Regions from separate parts of the Homo sapiens genome. Here region 1 is linked to region 2. The links come from fine-mapping of genetic effects on gene expression. Tissue or cell type: fibroblasts. Region 2 holds a variant in brackets; the other region holds the start of a gene. All regions are shown on one strand. Distances are between the middles of the regions.

What was found. PIP is the estimated chance that this variant, and not a neighbour inherited with it, causes the effect.
Region 1: ZFP2 starts here. The variant in region 2 is fine-mapped to the expression of ZFP2 in fibroblasts (GTEx, PIP 0.96).

Annotation. Positions count from the first base shown.
Region 1 is chr5:178,892,087-178,900,479 of GRCh38, reverse strand. It overlaps ZFP2 (ZFP2 zinc finger protein), which reads right to left and starts at 4,567. Exons shown (of 5, transcript NM_030613.4): 1 at 4,506-4,567. RefSeq lists silencers at 4,325-4,374, 4,445-4,554 and an enhancer at 4,665-4,854.
Region 2 is chr5:178,845,736-178,854,128 of GRCh38, reverse strand. No RefSeq gene overlaps it. Among named protein-coding and RNA genes, the nearest start is that of ZNF354B, 10 kb to the left of the region's middle. The variant T/A (reference allele first, on the strand shown) is at 5,104.

The DNA of each region.
Region 1 (8,393 bases), 46 kb before region 2:
GGGGGACGTGGAGTAGAAGTGGCACGAGGACACTGGCTGGCTGGGGTGGGGGACATGGAGTAGAAGTGGCACGAGGACACTGGCTGGCTGGGGTGGGGGACGTGGAGTAGAAGTAGCACGAGGACACTGTCTGGCTGGGGAGGGGGACGTGGAGTAGAAGTGGCACGAGGACACTGGCTGGCTGGGGTGATGCAAAAGTTCTGTACCTTGACTGAGGTGGTGGCTATGTTGGTGCATAAATTTGTCAAAACTCAATGAATTCTATGCTTAAATTGGGTTATTTTATTAAACTGTGCCTCAGAAAAAGCTGATTTAAAAATTAACACTATTTTGGCTACATAAATTAAAATGTAGGTTACTGACAACCAAACCACAACAGTCATCAACCAAAATCTTCTTAATGCTTCCCCTTTCAACATTTCCCTCTTCCAGAAACTCCCTTTGTCCAATACCCCCATTTTAAAAGTTATTTTGCCTTTTATAACTGAGTTTGATAATACTGAAGAAAGCAGTACAAATGGAAATCACAACAGTTTATACTTGCCTCCACGAAGCTTTCTTTAAACTGGTCTCTAATAAATAAACAAGTGATCCTAATAAATCAACGACCCCTAATACATACTTTTATGAGAAGAGAAAATGCCGTTAAGTCTTCAGTATTCCAGACAACAAGGCTAAGTAAGTTTAACCTTAAAAAAAAAAAAGAAGTTAGGGCCAAGTCTTCTGATGCCTTATTTTCTTTTTCAGAGAAGCCTGGAATCCTCACCTACTATCCCAGCTCCATGCTTCCCTCCATCTCACGGACACTACTTTTTCCTAGGAAAGTTTTGATTGTGCGAACTCCCTTATCAAAATTCCTCAGACTGACCTCCACCCCCATGGCCACCACCCTGCCAAACACACAAACTCCTCCTTCCCGACACTTGGTCCTAAAATTTTTATCCGATTTCTTCTACTCCAGCAGAGCATTTCTCACTATCAGTCACTGCCCCCTTCAGTCCACCTCTAAAAGTCTATACACAGGCTCTTGGCTGGGATGATACTAAGAATGCCTACAACTTACTGAATAACTTCAACATTCCAGGAGCCATGCCAGGCATTTTTTACTTTTATTATTTTATTTGAACTTTCAACAGACCTATGAAGTAGCTATTACTATTAAATGAAATCAGCCAGGTGACGTTCTTCATGTCACCTATATGGCAGACAGGTAATGCTGTAATTCCTATTATGACCATGAGAAAATAATGTTTCAGGAAAGCCAAGCCTCTTGCCAAGACAATGTAGCTATTAAATGGTAGAGCTGGGATTTAAACTCTGGACACACTGACTCCCTTATAACAAATCCTCTCCAGTTATCCCTTCCCAACCCCTGAGATGGGCAAACACTACCTACTTCTCCTGGCCACCACCCTGATCCTCCCCTTCACTCCAGCTTGGAATACGGATAAACTGGGTCCCTAACCACACTTGTTCTTATTACCATATTCAGGTGCAATTATGACTGTATACCATGCAGATGTGCCCTCTTTTATGATCCCTGAGAGCCCATAAGCCCTATAAGCACCAGCACCAGCTTGCATATAACTTTTTTCCCTTTCTGACCCTTGAACAGCACCAAGAACACAGCAGGCCAGGGTATCCAGCTGAGTAAGTGGCAGCTAGGAACAGAGGTCAGGAACACAGAGGGGGCTTTGTGAAAAATATCCAGCATTCTGCTATTTCAATAACCCTGTCCTGAGCAGTGAGGCCCACATGCAGTACAGGAGGAAGGGGGAGGTTTGAGAGGGAAAAATGAGCTCACCCGAGCTCCCAATGGCAGAGGCCAAGCAGCCATTGCCTTCTCCTTCCTTCCTGTGGGGTTCTTCCTTGGGGAGGGACAGAAGCCAAAGGAGGCAGAGCTGAGGGAAGGGAAAGAAGCCATGAGAAACAAGACTCCTGCAACAGCAACAATGAAAATACCTATAAATAAACTAAATAAGACCTGGATAGTAGCTACATAAAGAAAATGATTTTCATGTATTAAGTTCACTTCATTATGCCTATTTAGCTATACAAAGACGAAAGACAGAGAGACATGACATATTCTTGCACAATATGTCTCAATATACCAGGATGTCATTTCTTTAATTCATAAACTTAACACATTCCCAGCCAAGTTATGCCTAAGTAACAATATTTTACAGTTAATATGGGCCATGCGCGGTGGCTCACGCCTGTAATCCCAGCACTTTGGGAGGCCAAGGTGGGTGGACCACTTGAGGCCAGGAGTTCGAGACCAGCCTGGCCAAAATGGCAAAATCCTGTCTCTACCAAAAATACAAAAATTAGAGAGTGGTGGTGGGCGCCTGTAATCCCAGCCACTCAGGAGTCTGAGGCAGGAGAATCACTTGAACCGGGGAGGTAGAGGTTGCAGTGTCGAGATCACACCACTGCACTCTAGCCTCGGTGACAGAGCAAGACTCCGTCTCAATAAAAAAAAAGAAGTTCACTAATTATGGAAAAAATATTTAAGTTGTGTGTTACAACAACTAAGACTTTTTTAAAAAAGAATACTGATGAGAGACAACTTGCCCACCAGTATTCATAAAGCTACAAGAATTGGAACACAATATTACTGACTTATTTACCAGATACATTGTTGACCACCTACTGTATACTAGGCACCATTGCATGGGGTAGGGGTGGATACAGCTGTAAATAAAACAGATAAACTCTCCGCAATCATGGATGTTATAGCCGAACAGGGAAAAGCATCAATGGAACAAATTAAAATTCTACCAACCTAAATGGTTCAAATACACATGTATTTATGTATGTGTGTGTATATATATATTTCATTCAAGATATGAAATAAGTGACATTTCATATCAACGAAGAAAAAATTACTAAGTAACTTGTAACAAAGGCTTACCATTTGGAAAAAAATAAAAATGTACACAAAAAATGAAAGTACTAAGAGAAACTACAAACATTTTTGTAATCTCGTGGGACAGACAGCTTCTCTGCCAGTGATGTCAAACACCCAAACGTGAAGAAAAGGTTTTCATGTGTGACCATAAGAACCTGTGACGTTTCTGCACAGTCAGGAAACATGCTTATGTATCAGATACAAAATTAAAATACAAAATGCAAACTGCGTGAAAATATTCATTAGTGTTCAAAATGCAAATGTAAACAATCCTATCTTTTGCACCTCTCAGAAGTTCAAGAGAATACTAACATTCACAGTTGGTGTGGGTAAATCTGGCACTCTTACACTGCAAGTGTTTATATAAACTGCAACTTTTCTGGAGGGAATAAGACAGGAGGTATCAAAATCCTTACTGTACCCTGGACCTAGAAATTTCACTTTAAGAGATTTATAGAATAAGACAAAATGCAAAGATGTATGTAGCCAGATGGCCTATACTGTTTATAATACTGAAAAAAAAAAAGAAAAAAGAAAACCCTAACACAAAAACCTAAGGAGAGGATTCAATACGACACATCCATACTTTCCCTCACACTCATTAAAATGACGTAGCTCTATTTAAAATCTGGTATAAGTAGATGGTGTCAACATATTCCAATGTTTTTTTCAGATGTATTCTCTATCTTCATTGGGTGTTTAGGCCAGTAAAAAATTACAAGGCTTAAGATTTGTGCACTTCAAACCCCTTACCAAATGCATCTCATGACTCAGTTTTAAAAGATAGATGGAGAAAAAGCTGCTAATATTCATATTTCTGTTTAAAAACAAAGTACAAAGTGTTTCTATGCTTATACACATATCCACGCTGCCATGCAGATGGAGATAGATTTTGAATGATTGTTTTAATCTCAATTTTCCAGTTGTGCTACAGTGAAATCGCTTAAGGAAAAAAAGAAAAGATTCCCCGAGGTCGAAACCTGCACCAGGTTGGCCTCCCCATTCTTATTGTGAGATGGGAGGGGAGCCCACGCCAGCGCTCTCGGAATGAGATCCAGAGGGCGGGTCCGGAGACCCGGTTTACACAAAGGGCAGATGCTGCACAGGGAGACCCAGCCTCTGGCCCAGAATCCCCGGGATGTCCGCGGGTTAGGTTCGCTCCACGGTCGCAGCGTGTCCCGGGACAAAGCTGCGCGCGGCTGGGGAAAGCCAGGGAGGAACCCGGGTCCGAGCGACTCTTGGAACCTTGGGCCCCTCCCTGACCCGTGGTGGCCGGCGTGGCCCTTGTTCGAGCCCCCATCCCCGCTGCTCCGGGGCTGTGATTCCACCTCGGCGCCTGCCCAGGACAGCGCCGAAGGACACTCAGCTGCCAGCGTGCTCCCGCCGCCAGCTCCTGGGGAAGAGGGAGCGCACCTGGAGCCGGAGGCCCGGCGCTCCACAGGCGCAGTGAGGCCGCACCCCCGGCCCATCTGCTGCGGGCCCGCCCCTCAACCCTCAGGAAGCTGGGGCCTCGCCCCGCAATCCGGAGCTCCTCCTGCGGGGGCCTACAAGACTCACGGATGGCGCGCGCCCCCGCCACCGGCCCCGCACTCACCCTCTCCCAGCAGGAGCGGGAGCAGCGGCGACCGACACAGCCGCGACCGGCGCTTACAGCCCGGAGCGCCAGACTACATTTCCCACAAGGCTGCGGGGCTGCAGTGCGGCCAGGCCGTCGGCGTGTGCGAGAACGGGGCCCCAGAGGGCAAGGCTGTGCCAGTGGCCAGCTGAGGTGGCCCACGGTGTGGCCTCTGCAGGTCATCGGTGTGTCCAGGCGGGACGCGGGGTTCCCAGGCGGCCCCTTACCCCGGCTAAAGTCGTCTCTCTGGCCAGGCCTGCAATCTCAGCACTTTGGGAGGCGGGTGGGTGAATCACCTGAGGTCAGGAATTCAAGACCAGCCTGGCTAACATGGTGAAACCCTGTCTCTACTAAAAATACAAAAAAAATTAGCCAGGCGTGGTGGCGGGCACCTGTAGTCCCAGCTACTCGGGAGGCTGAGACAAGAAAATCACTTGAACCTGAGAGGCAGAGGTTGCAGTGAGCCGATATTGCGCCACCTCACTCCAGCCTGGGTGACAAGAGCAAGAGAGTGTCTTAAAAAAAAAAAAAAGGCATTAATTTACCAGCAAATAAAATATTTTAAACTTTTATGTATTTAATAACATAAGATACAAAATACATAAAGCAAACATGGGCAGAACCCATTTTTAATTTTGTTTTCTTTCTTTTTTGTACAGATGGGATCTTACTCTGTTGCCCAAGCTGGTCTCAAACTTCTGGGCTCAAGCAACGCTCCTGCCTTGGCCTCCCAAAATGCTGGGATTATAGGCGTCAGCCACCACCCTGGCCTCAGAGTTTTTAACCTACCTTCTCAGTAACTAATAGAAAAGCTGACAAAAAGGTCACTATAGATATGAAATATTTGAAAAGCAAAATTAGTTTTATGTTAATGAATAGACATGTAGACTACTCCACCCCAAAACTGAAGAAAACACATGGAAAAGCATATATTTACTTAAGAAATGATCTCATACTAGTCTGTAAAGTAGCCTCAACACATTTCAAGCAATTGGTATCACACAAGACCATATTCTTTGACAATGTAATTAAGCTAAACATTTTTTAAAAGACTAGAAACTTTTTAGAAAAGATTTAGGTAAAGGGAATATTTAGAGGAAATTTTGCAGCCTTCAAAGCATACAGTAAAGAAGAAAAGAAGGCAGATTGGGTACAACACATCTAATTTTGTTCCCTCCTAACACGTACTGATATAGTTCAGGACACACACACTCACTGCCAAAATATGGCACCTCATCATTTGAGAAAACAGCAGAAACAGGAAGGACTTTTCCACACATCTCCCACGAAGCAGGTTGTAAAACCTAGGAAGAATTTCCTAACGTCCCCTGAAGCAGGTCGTAAGATTCTCATGTGAGATTTGCACTCCCTATACCTGGAGGAAAGTAACATCTTTATTGCTGAAGACACACAGTCACAGAGAAAACTCTTGAACAAACAGGCCTTGCTAAGTTGCCCCCAGTGTATTACTATTAGATCATATCCTCTTTGTCCATTTATATTTCTCTGTGACTTCATCAAATTTAGCATAAAAATACACAACTTTAACTGTTTCTTTGGGACTTCATTTCCTTATGTAGGCTGCTGTGTCATGTAAAACTTGTATTAAAGAAACTTGTATGTTTTGCTCTTGTTAATTTGTCTTTTGTCTTAGGGGTCTCAGCCACCAACATAGGACGCGCAAGAAAAATGTATTTTGCCTCCTCTGTACCACTAAAAGCAAATGTAACAGATTGTTTGAAAACTTGTTAATTCACAAGGTCAGGAAAAACAAGTAAGGACACACCAGCAACATTTTAAATCTTGGAAACGGATGTTATTTTCTTGGCAAACCTGAAATAATGCCAAATCCCAGAGAGCTGTAAGAAAGGTAAAGGCCAGGCTGGGTACAGTGGCTCATGCCTGTAATCCCAGCACCCTGGGAGGCCGAAGTCAGGGGATCACTCAAGACCGCAAGTTCCAGGACAGCCTGGGCAACATGGCGAGATGCTGTCTTTACAAAAAATAAAGGTAGGAAGGAATGGAGTCTCTCTACTGTTTTGTGCAAATGTAGTCGGGTTTATGATCAGAACTGCTGTTATGTACAATGCTGCTAACCTCCAAGCCTTGGAGGGAAAAGGTTAAGGATGAACTTTCTGTTCTTGGGCACACAACCAAAAGGCCTGGACAATGAGAAACTTTTTCTGGACTGGTTCCACTAATGCTTTTGTCCGTGAAATCACGAAGTACCTTGCCAGTAAGGGACTGCCCTTGAATGTTCTTTTGATATTGGACAATGACCCTGGTCACCCAGAACCCATGAGTTCAATGTCAAAGGCACTGAAGTGGTCTACTGTATTAATATCAGATAATGTGGACTTTGTAGACAAAGAAAATTGAGACAGGAAAATTACATAATGATAAAAGGGCTAATCTACCAAAAAGTTATAGCAGTCAGTTTTTAATTTTTTAAAATGTTTCGTAGAGACAGGATCTACCTATGTTGCCCAGACTGGTATCGAACTCCTGGCCTCAAGTGATCCTCCCACCTCAGCCTCCAAAAGTGCTGAGATTACAGGCACATGCCACCATGCCCAGCTTTGTTGCTGTTGTTGTTGTTGTTTTTTGAGACAGTCTGTCGCTTTGTTGTCCAGGCTGGATGCAATCTCGGCTCACTGCAACCTCCGCCTCCCAAGTTCAAGCGATTCTACCTCACCTGAGTAGCTGGGATTACAGGCACTAGCCACTGTGCTCGGATAATTTTTGTATTTTTAGTAGAGACAGGGTTTCACCATGTTGGTCAGGCTGGTCTCGAACTCCTGACCTCAAGTGATCCACTTGCCTCAGCCTCCTAAAGTGTTGGGATTACAGGCGTGAGCCACTGCGCCCGGCCTAGCTTTGTTTTTTTCTTTCAAATTCTACAGCAGGCTTAAAAATGGTTTATGTTCAAACATTACAATACTAAGGGATTCTGTATCTATGTATTTTTTACCAGAGTCTTTATATTTTCATAGTTTCATGTTGTTATTACCTTTCAATTTAAAGAATTCCCTTTAGCATCTTTTTGAGACAGGAGTCTGTCACCCAGGCTACAGTGCGGTGGTGTGATCTTAGCTCACTGCAACCTCCACTTCCCAGGTTCAAGGGATTGTGCCTCAGCCTCCCACCTAGCTGGGACTACAGACGCCCACCACTACACGTGGATAATTCACATAATTTTAGTAGAGATGGGGTTTCACCATGTTGGCCAGGCTGGTCTCAAACTGCTGACCTCAAGTGATCCCCCCGCCTCAGCCTTCTGAAGTGCTGGGATTATAAGCATGAGCCACCTTACCCGGCCAGATCTCCATTTCTTTAGGGTTGGTTTCTGGAGGTTAGTTTCTTTTTATTGGGATGTGTTTCACTCTTTCTTTACAGCCTTGTGATCTTTTGTTGAGACTTGACCACTTGAAAAAAACAGTCCCCTCCAGCAGTCTCTAAGGATTGGCTTTGTGTAAAAGAAGACCGTCATCATTTAGCACAACTAGAGATTCTGGGATTGTCTCAAACTTTTTCTGGGGATGCTACTTCTCTGGGCTTGTGCACAGAATGAGGTTTTTGCCTGCTTCTTCTTTAGAGATTGTAACCTCTTGTTCCCCTTGCTGTCTGCAGTATTACAGTCTCTCTGGTGATGTAACAAGCTCCAGTGCTCACCTTTGTTCTCAGCAGCCCCCAATCTAGCATCCAAACTACTAATTCCAGTCAGTACTCTGAGTCTCATGAGACAAACCATGCCCTTGGAAAGCACCATGAAAAGCTAAAACACTGGATGCACAGCCCACTCTTCTTCCCTCCTGAGGGAAAAACTGGCAGCTGAGTGTTTTTTTCCTGATCACACCTTGCCACGCT
Region 2 (8,393 bases):
AAGAGCGAAACTCCACCTCAAAAAAAAAAAGAAAGAAAAGAAAAAGAAAAAAAAAACAGAGAAGGAAATTACATAATGATAAAAAGTTTAATCCACCAAGACGGCATAGCAATCCTAAATGTGTATGCATTAAGAAACAGAGCTATAAAAATATGTGAAACAAAATGTGGAAGAAAATGAATAGAGAAATAGACAATTAGACAAGTGCACAATTGTAGTTGGAGGTTTCAACATCCCTCCCTCAACATCAGGACACAACTAGGCAGGATATCTGCAAGGAAATAGAATGATATTCAACACCACCAACAACCAAAAGGATCTAACAGACATTTGTCAAACACTTCAACCAACAACAGCATACATTCCTTTCAAGTGCCCAGAGAACATACACCCAATAGACCAATTTCCAGAGCATAAAACAAACTTCAACACATTTAGAAGAATTTTATCATACAGAATGTGTTCTCTGACCATGATGGAATCAAACTGGAAACAAGAACAGAAAGACAACATAAAAAACTTTTATACTTGGAAAATCAATAACACACTTCTACATAATCCATGGGTCCGTAGGAAGTCTTAAGGGAAATCAAAATGCATGGAAGGAATGAAGATGAAAATACAACATATCGAAATGTGTGGGGCACAGCTCTAAAGCAAGGCTGAGAAAGAATCAACCCAACAGGACTTCTTGCTGAGAAGCAAAACTTCGGGGAAAAAAGGAACATGACATAACTTGTCAATATCAGTAATGAAACAAGGGCTATTACACAAATCAGATCCTGCAGACATCAAAAAGATAAGAGAATACTCTATAAACATAAAATTTGACAACTTCAATGAAATATGCCAGTTCCTGAGAAACAAACAAAAAAAATCCCACAGACTGCCACAAATCACTTATATGAAATAAATAATTTGAATAGTCCTATACTATTAAATAAATTGAAATCAGCCAGAAGTGGTGGACACGCCTGTAATCCCAGCACATTTGGAGGCTGAGGCAGGTGGATCACAAGTCAAGAGTTCGAGACCAGCCTGGCCAACATGACAAAACCCCGTCTCTACTAAAAATATAAAAATTAGCCAGGTGTGGTGGCAGGCGCCTGTAATCCCAGCTACTCAGGAGGCTGAGGCAGGAGAATTGCTTGAACCTGGGAGGCAGAGGTTGCAGTGAGCCGAGATTGCGCCACTGCACTCCATCCTAGGTGACAAAATGAGACGCTGTCTCCAAACAAAAAGAAAACAAATTGAAATCATAATTTTAAGACTAAAAAAAATTTTTAGGCCAGATGCATTCAGTGGAGAATTCTATCAAGTGTTTAAAGCAAAATTTACTCCAAAATTAACACAATACCTTTCAGAAAATAGAAGAGGAGTCTGCAGGAACTCACTCTGAGCTGCTGGAATGCAGTGAGTCAGGGGGTTCCTGAGTGTGGAAATGTATTTGCTCCTCTTTTCTTCTGGCAGTCTCGGAAGCTCACAAGAGTCCTGCTGCTATCAAAAGCCCCGGATGTAATGTAGTCAGACCGTCTGAATCAGAGTGTTCTGATTACATTTGTTTTTTGTTTGAGATGGAGTCTCGCTCTGTTGCCCAGGCTGGAGTGCAGTGGTGTGATCTTGGCTCACTGCAACCTCTGCCTCCTGGGTTCAAGTGATTTTCCTTTTTCAGCCAACCGAGTAGCTGGGAGTACAGGTGCCCACCACCACGACTGGCTAATTTTTGTATTTTTAGTAGAGACAGGGTTTCACCATGTTGCCCAGGCTGGCCTCAAACTCCTAACCTCAAGTGATCCGCCTGCCTCAGCCTCCCAAAGTGCTGGGTTAATAGATGTAAGAACCGATGGTGGGAAAAAGCAGAACAGGGCTGTACACAGGGTGGTCAAGAATGCTGGGACTATGCTGCTGAGATTGTTTTCTGGCTTCAGAATCTCAGATGCTGGCCTGGGTGCCCTCATGGCCCCACTCAGAATGAAACTGGTATTTCAGGCACCATTCACTGCATAGCACCCAATTCTTCAGAATCATACCTTCATGTCAAGGGAGAGTATCAGTGAGCAGACAGCGAGGGACTGTGTGTACCTTCTTAAGTCAGTTTAAACTGAATGTCATTGGCCCAAGTGTAATCCTTGATTTTTTTTTTTTTGAGATGAAATCTCACTCTGTCACCCAGGCTGGAGTGCAATGGTGCAATCTCAGGTCACTGCAACCTCCGCCTCCTGGGTTCAAGCAATTCTCCTGCCTCAGCCTCCCGAGTAGCTGGGATTACAGGTCCTGCCACAATAATCAGCTCATTTTTGTATTTTTAGTAGAGAAGGGGTTTCATTATGGTGGCCAGGCTGGTCTCAAACTCCTGACCTCAAGTGATCCTCCCACCTTGGCCTCCCAAAGTGGTGGGATTACAGGCATGAGCCACTGCACCTGGCAATCCTTGATTCTTTACATGTCACCTAAAAAGATCACATTCTCTTCATTTCCATAGTCAAATTTCAGGCCGCATTCCCAATACCCTTGAAAATTGTCATAATCAAAATGGAGTCACTGAGGTTAAGAAAATCCTGACAAATAAAGCCAACGAAGGCCATGAAGAGAAGGTTCTCACACTTTTATGCCTGAGAATGAAAAAGACTCTACAAAAACCACAACATTGCACAAAGGCCATCACAACCTTACATAAAAAAACACTTCTGCAAGTACATCTGCCCAGCAACTGCCTGTCCAAACACAGCCTGGTATCGCCCTTATTATTGATCTTTGTAGCAAAGGATAATTTTTTGTTTGTTTGTTTTGTTTTGTGAGACACAGTCTCACTCTGCCGCCAGGATGGAGTGCAGTGGTGCGATCTCAGCTCACTGCAACCTCCACCTCCCGGGTTCAAGCAATTCTTCTGCCTCAGCCTCCCAAGTATCTGGGACTACAGGTGGGTGCCACCATGTCCAGCTAATTTTTGTATTTTTAGTAGGATGGGGTTTCACCATGTTGGCCAGGATGGTCTTGATCTCTTGACCTTGTGATTCGTCCACCTCGGCATCCCAAAGTGCTGGGATTACAGGCCTCATGAGCAACCACACCCGGCCGGATAATTATTTCAAAAACAATTATGTAATCTCCTCACTTTTCCCTTAAAATCCTTTGTCTTGCTTTACCTCTCTGAATATGGATATACTTTAACTACAGTATTTCCTGTTGCAATGTCCTATTCCCTAAAAAACACTTCCTTTAGAGAGCCTCTCTCTGTTTCTTATTTAGGTTGACAACCCATGTGGCCAGGAAGCCCCCTAAATGGGCTCTGTGCTTTCCACTTTAAGATCATCCAGGCCGGGCGCAGTGGCTCGCGCCTGTAATCCCAGCACTTTGGGAGGCCAAGGCAGGCAGATCACTTGAGGTCAGGAGTTCATAACCAGCCTGGCCAACATGGTGACATTACAGGCGCACACCACCATGCCTGGCTAATTTTTGTAGTTTTAGTAGAGACGGGGTTTCACCATATTGGTCAGGCTGGTCTCGAATTCCTGACCTCTGGTGATCCGCCCACCTTGGCCCCCCAAAAAACAATCCCCTAAAGCAAGAATGTTTCCAAGTAACTTAACAGCAAAGAGCAAAACCCATCCTTTGTTAAAGGAACACATAATGCCCAGACCCCCAAAATATAAAATGCACAATGCTGGTGTTAGCCGAAGAACATGAGATCCATGGAAGAAGGAAAGAAAACTTTCTCTTCAGAGGAAGAAGCAGTTCTCAGATTGGGGAACATGGCTTCCAGGGAAACCTGAAAGGGCATGCTTGGCAGAGGGAGGGGGAAGTTGGTATCTAGGTCTTCTAGGGTTAACCTTACATACAGATTGAGCAGGGTTGGAGAAATCTATGAATATTCATGAGGGAAGCCAGGGGGATGTGCAGTGGATAAACATGTTAACATTCCATGTTTACTTTGGGATGGGGTTTTAGTATTAAAATTATGTGGACTTTGTCTCTGTATGCCAGAAGGTGAACTGTAACCAGGCGCGGTGGCTCACGCCTGTAATCCCAGCTCTTTAGGAGGCCAAAGTGGGCGGATCACTTGAGGCCATGAGTTTGAGATCAGCCTGACCAACATGGCCAAACCCCATCTCTACTAAAAATACAAAAATTAGCTGGGCATGGTGGCGGGCACCTGTAATCCCAGCTACTCGGGAGGCTGAGGCAGGAGAATCACTTGAGCCCGGGAGGCGGAGGTTGCAGTGAGCCGAGATCGCGCCACTACACTCCAGCCTGTGGGACAGAGCAAGACTCTGTTTAAAAAAAATAAAAAAGTAGTGAACTGTAGTGCACAAAGACAGTTAGTCCACAGTCTCTATAATGGCCGAAACTGCCCTGAGGTTAGGGGCTATTTACCGGTAAACAATGCTTTTTTGGCCAGTCCTCTGTCCAGTTGGAGTTGTGTTGGGACCGTCAAGGCAGGCTCAATCAGCTGGGGTCAGGCAGTTTCCTAGGGTCAGCTGGGAAATTCTCCAGCTGTAGTTGTTTCCGCAATGCTTTTCAGGAGTTGGTTTCTGCTTAATTACAGGAAAGAACCTTACGGCAATTAACGCAGAAATATGTGCCTAACTCATCCTTCTGGCCATGAGATTCTGTTTTGGGTGTGTGTCTCATTTTAACCACAGGAAGTCCACTTCATCTGTATTCGGAAATGTTTTAACACTGACATTGGGACTCAGAAGTTGAAACCTCAAATATTGGCTCTGTGACATGCTGAAAATCCTTAGAAGCAGCCTCAGAATCAAGGCCCTTCTAATCTTATTTTATTCCTCTTCCAAGAGCAGGGAGGGACACTAGAATTTAGAAAGCTCCTTTCCAAAAGAAATGCAATGGTCTTTAGACTCCCTCCGTAGGGATCTCAAAAACCAGGAAAGATTAACCACCAGAGAGAAGATGGGGAGTCAGTCACCACCACATTCAGACAGACTTTTCCTCTATTCTTCTTAGGGCAGCTCCAAGAAGTTACCTAAGAAACTTTATCTGCATAACATGACAGTCTTTGGTGTGTGAACCATTGTCACACCAATTGTGAACCAATGTTCCTGTGAACCATTGTATGAGCACTGGACCTATTCATTCCCCCAT[T/A]TCTCCTTCCCCCATGACATGGACATTTAAGTCTCAACCATCTGCCCCTCTGAGTTCACATTTTGTGTGGATCCCATGGGCACGTGTGCATGTAACAAATTTACCATGCTTTTCTCTTGTTAACCAGTTTTGTGTCACCTGTGATCCTTTACAATGGCGAGGAAAGAGATCACCCCCTTTCTGGCCCTACACTGGTCTTCTACCTAAAATTACCAGGCATGCAACAAGACAGAGCTAGAATTCACCGCTAGCAGAGAGAATAAAAAAGACTCAGATTGATGCGGATGGTGGAATTAGTGAAGAAAAGCTTTAAAACAGCTATTACGGCCGGGCACAGTGGCTCACACCTGTAGTCCCAGCATTTTGGGAGGACGAGGCAGGTGGATCACGAGGTCAGGAAATCAAGACCATCCTGGCTAACACGGTGAAACCCCATCTCTACTAAAAAAAATACAAAAAATTGGCCGGCCGTGGTGGTGGGCGCCTGTAGTCCCAGCTACTTGGGAGGCTGAGGCAGGAGAATGGCGTGAACCTGGGAGGCGGAGCTTGCAGTGAGCCGAGATGGCGCCACTGTACTCCAGCCTGGGAGACAGAACGAGATTCCATCTCAAAAAAAAAAAAAAAAAAAAAAAACAGAAAAAACAGCTATTACAATTAAGACTGCCTATGGTCAAGTGTGCAGAGGAAGCAGGAGTGTAAGATCATTGATGAATATAAAAAGGACTGGAAGAGAACTGCAAAATACAGTAACTGAAAAAAAAAAAATCAAAGAAGCCACGCTATCCCATTAAAACCAGGAATTCTAAAGCAATCGCACATCAAGCACTTCAGTATATTCCTCATAGTGAAATGAGAAAAGGAAGTCACAGGTGAAGTCTCACCCATTTCCCCACATGAAGTGTAAATCCTCATGTATATAGTTTACACACATCACTAGTAAGACTAGGATAACATTTCATGTCAAACAGGATTAAAATCAAAGCAACAGTCCCCAAACAGTTGACGTTCAAACACTAGAGCCACTCCCAAACCATCTGTACAAAATAAGGCTGTTTTTAACACCAACATGCCACATTGTCCAAGAAGCATTAGACGGCCGGGCATGGTGGCTCATGCCTGTAATCTCAGCACTTTGGGATGCCAAGGCAGGCGGATCATCTGAGATCAGGAGTTCAAGACCAGCCTGGCCAACACGGTGAAACCCCGTCTCTACTAAAAATACAAAAAAATTAACTGGGCGTGGTGGTGGGGCTACTCCTCCCCAGGTCCCTCTGTGGTTGCGGGGTAGTCACTGAGTGTGCAAAAAACGCACTAAAAGAGTATTGAAAAAAAGTAAAATTTGTACTTCAATCCATCAATCCTTACTTTCCTAGGGGCCAGTGTATCAAAGTGTTGGTTGACACGTTTTATGTCAGCTTTTCAATATCTGCACAAATTCCTGCCGGCATTTTTATTGGGATTGCCTTGCACTTATAGAGCAAGTTGGGGGAAATTGACATCTTAGCAATATCAACCTTCTGATCCATAAAAAGCTGTTGGCTTAAGTATTATTTGATCTTCATCAGAGTTTTGTAGTTTTCAGCATACGGATTCTGCACATATTTTGTTAAATTTATACCTGTGTACTTTATTTTGTCTTTTTTTTGGCTATTGTAAATGGTATTTTTATAATTTAAAATTCCAGTTGTTATATAACAAAGGTCTGCAAATAGTGACCCATGAGGCAGATCTGATTCCCCACCTGCTGCTTTTCTTTGGCTAAGAATCATTTTTCACGTTATTAAACAGTTGAAAAAATCAAAAGGCTAGCATTTTTGTGACCTGAGAAAACTGAAATTCAGATCTGAGTGGCCATAAATAAAGTGTTGCTAGAACACAGACACGCTCCCTTATTATTTACGTGTTGTCTATGGGTGCTTCCCATTACAAGAGCAGAGTTAGTTGCAACAGAGATCACATGGTTTACAAAAATAAAATATTTACTATTTTGCCCTTCAGAAAAAAAAAAAAAGTTGCCGGCTGGGCACAGTGGCTCACACCTGTAATCTCAACACTTTGGGAGGCCAAGGCGGGCGGATCGCGAGGTCACGAGACCAAGACCATCCTGGCCAATATGGTAAAACTCCGTCTCTACGAAAAATACAAAAATTAGCTGGGAGTGGTGGCATGTGCCTGTAATTCCACATACTTGGGAGGCTGAGGCAGGAGAATCACTTGAACCTGGGAGGTAGAGATTGCAGTGAGCTGAGATCACGCCATTGCATTCCAGCCTGGGCAACAAGAGCAAAACTCCACCTCAAAGAAAAAGAAAAAAGAAAAAGAAAAAGAAAAAGAAAAAAGGTTGCCCATTCCAGGTATAAAGGAATATTATTTATTTAGGTATATTGACTATGTATGGTTGCTAAACTTATTCATTACAATTCCAGGAATTTTTTTCTTTTTGTAGAGTCTTTGAGATTTTTCACATAGCTGTAACAGTACTGATTCCATGGTAAAGAAAAAAATTGCTTGATTGAATATAATTAATGCTTTCCTTAAGTTTATAGACTATTCGCCAATCTTCAGGTTTGTATTATTTCTTAGAATATGATCTGTCCAGATCAATGTTCCACGTACATTTTTTTTTTTTTGAGACGGAATCTCACTGTGTCACCCAGGCTGGAATGCAGTGGCACAATCTCGGCTCACTGCAACCTCCACCTCCTGGATTCAAGCGATTCTCCTACCTCAGCCTCCTGAGTAGCTTGGACTACAGAAGTGCACCACCACGCCTGGCTAATTTTTTTTGCATTTTAGTAGAGACGAGGTTTCACCATGTTGGCCAGGTTGGTCTCAAACTCCTGATTTCAGGTGATCCACCCCATCGGCCTCCCAAAGTGCTGGGATTACAGGCATGAGCTGCCACGCCTGGCCCCATGTACATTTGAAAATAATGTGTGTCCTGCTATTTTTGGATGGAGTGTTCTAAAAATACCAGTTAAGTTGGTTGCCAAGCTCTGTTCAGGCTGCCTTTATTTTTACTGAATTCTGGCTAGTCTCTCATTCAGTTAGTGAGAGAGAATGTTGAAATGCCAGCTATAATCGTGGATTTGTCTATTTTTCTTCTCAGTTCTTTCAGGTTTTGCCTCAAGTACTTTGAAGCTCTGTGTATGAAGGTGTGTACACATTTAGGATTATTAAGTCTTCTTGGAGAATTGATCACCTTTTCACTTGTAATGGCTCTCTTTATCCCTGATTATTTTCCTTGTTCTGAAGTCTAATTTGTTGGAAGTAAATACAGTGACATTAAC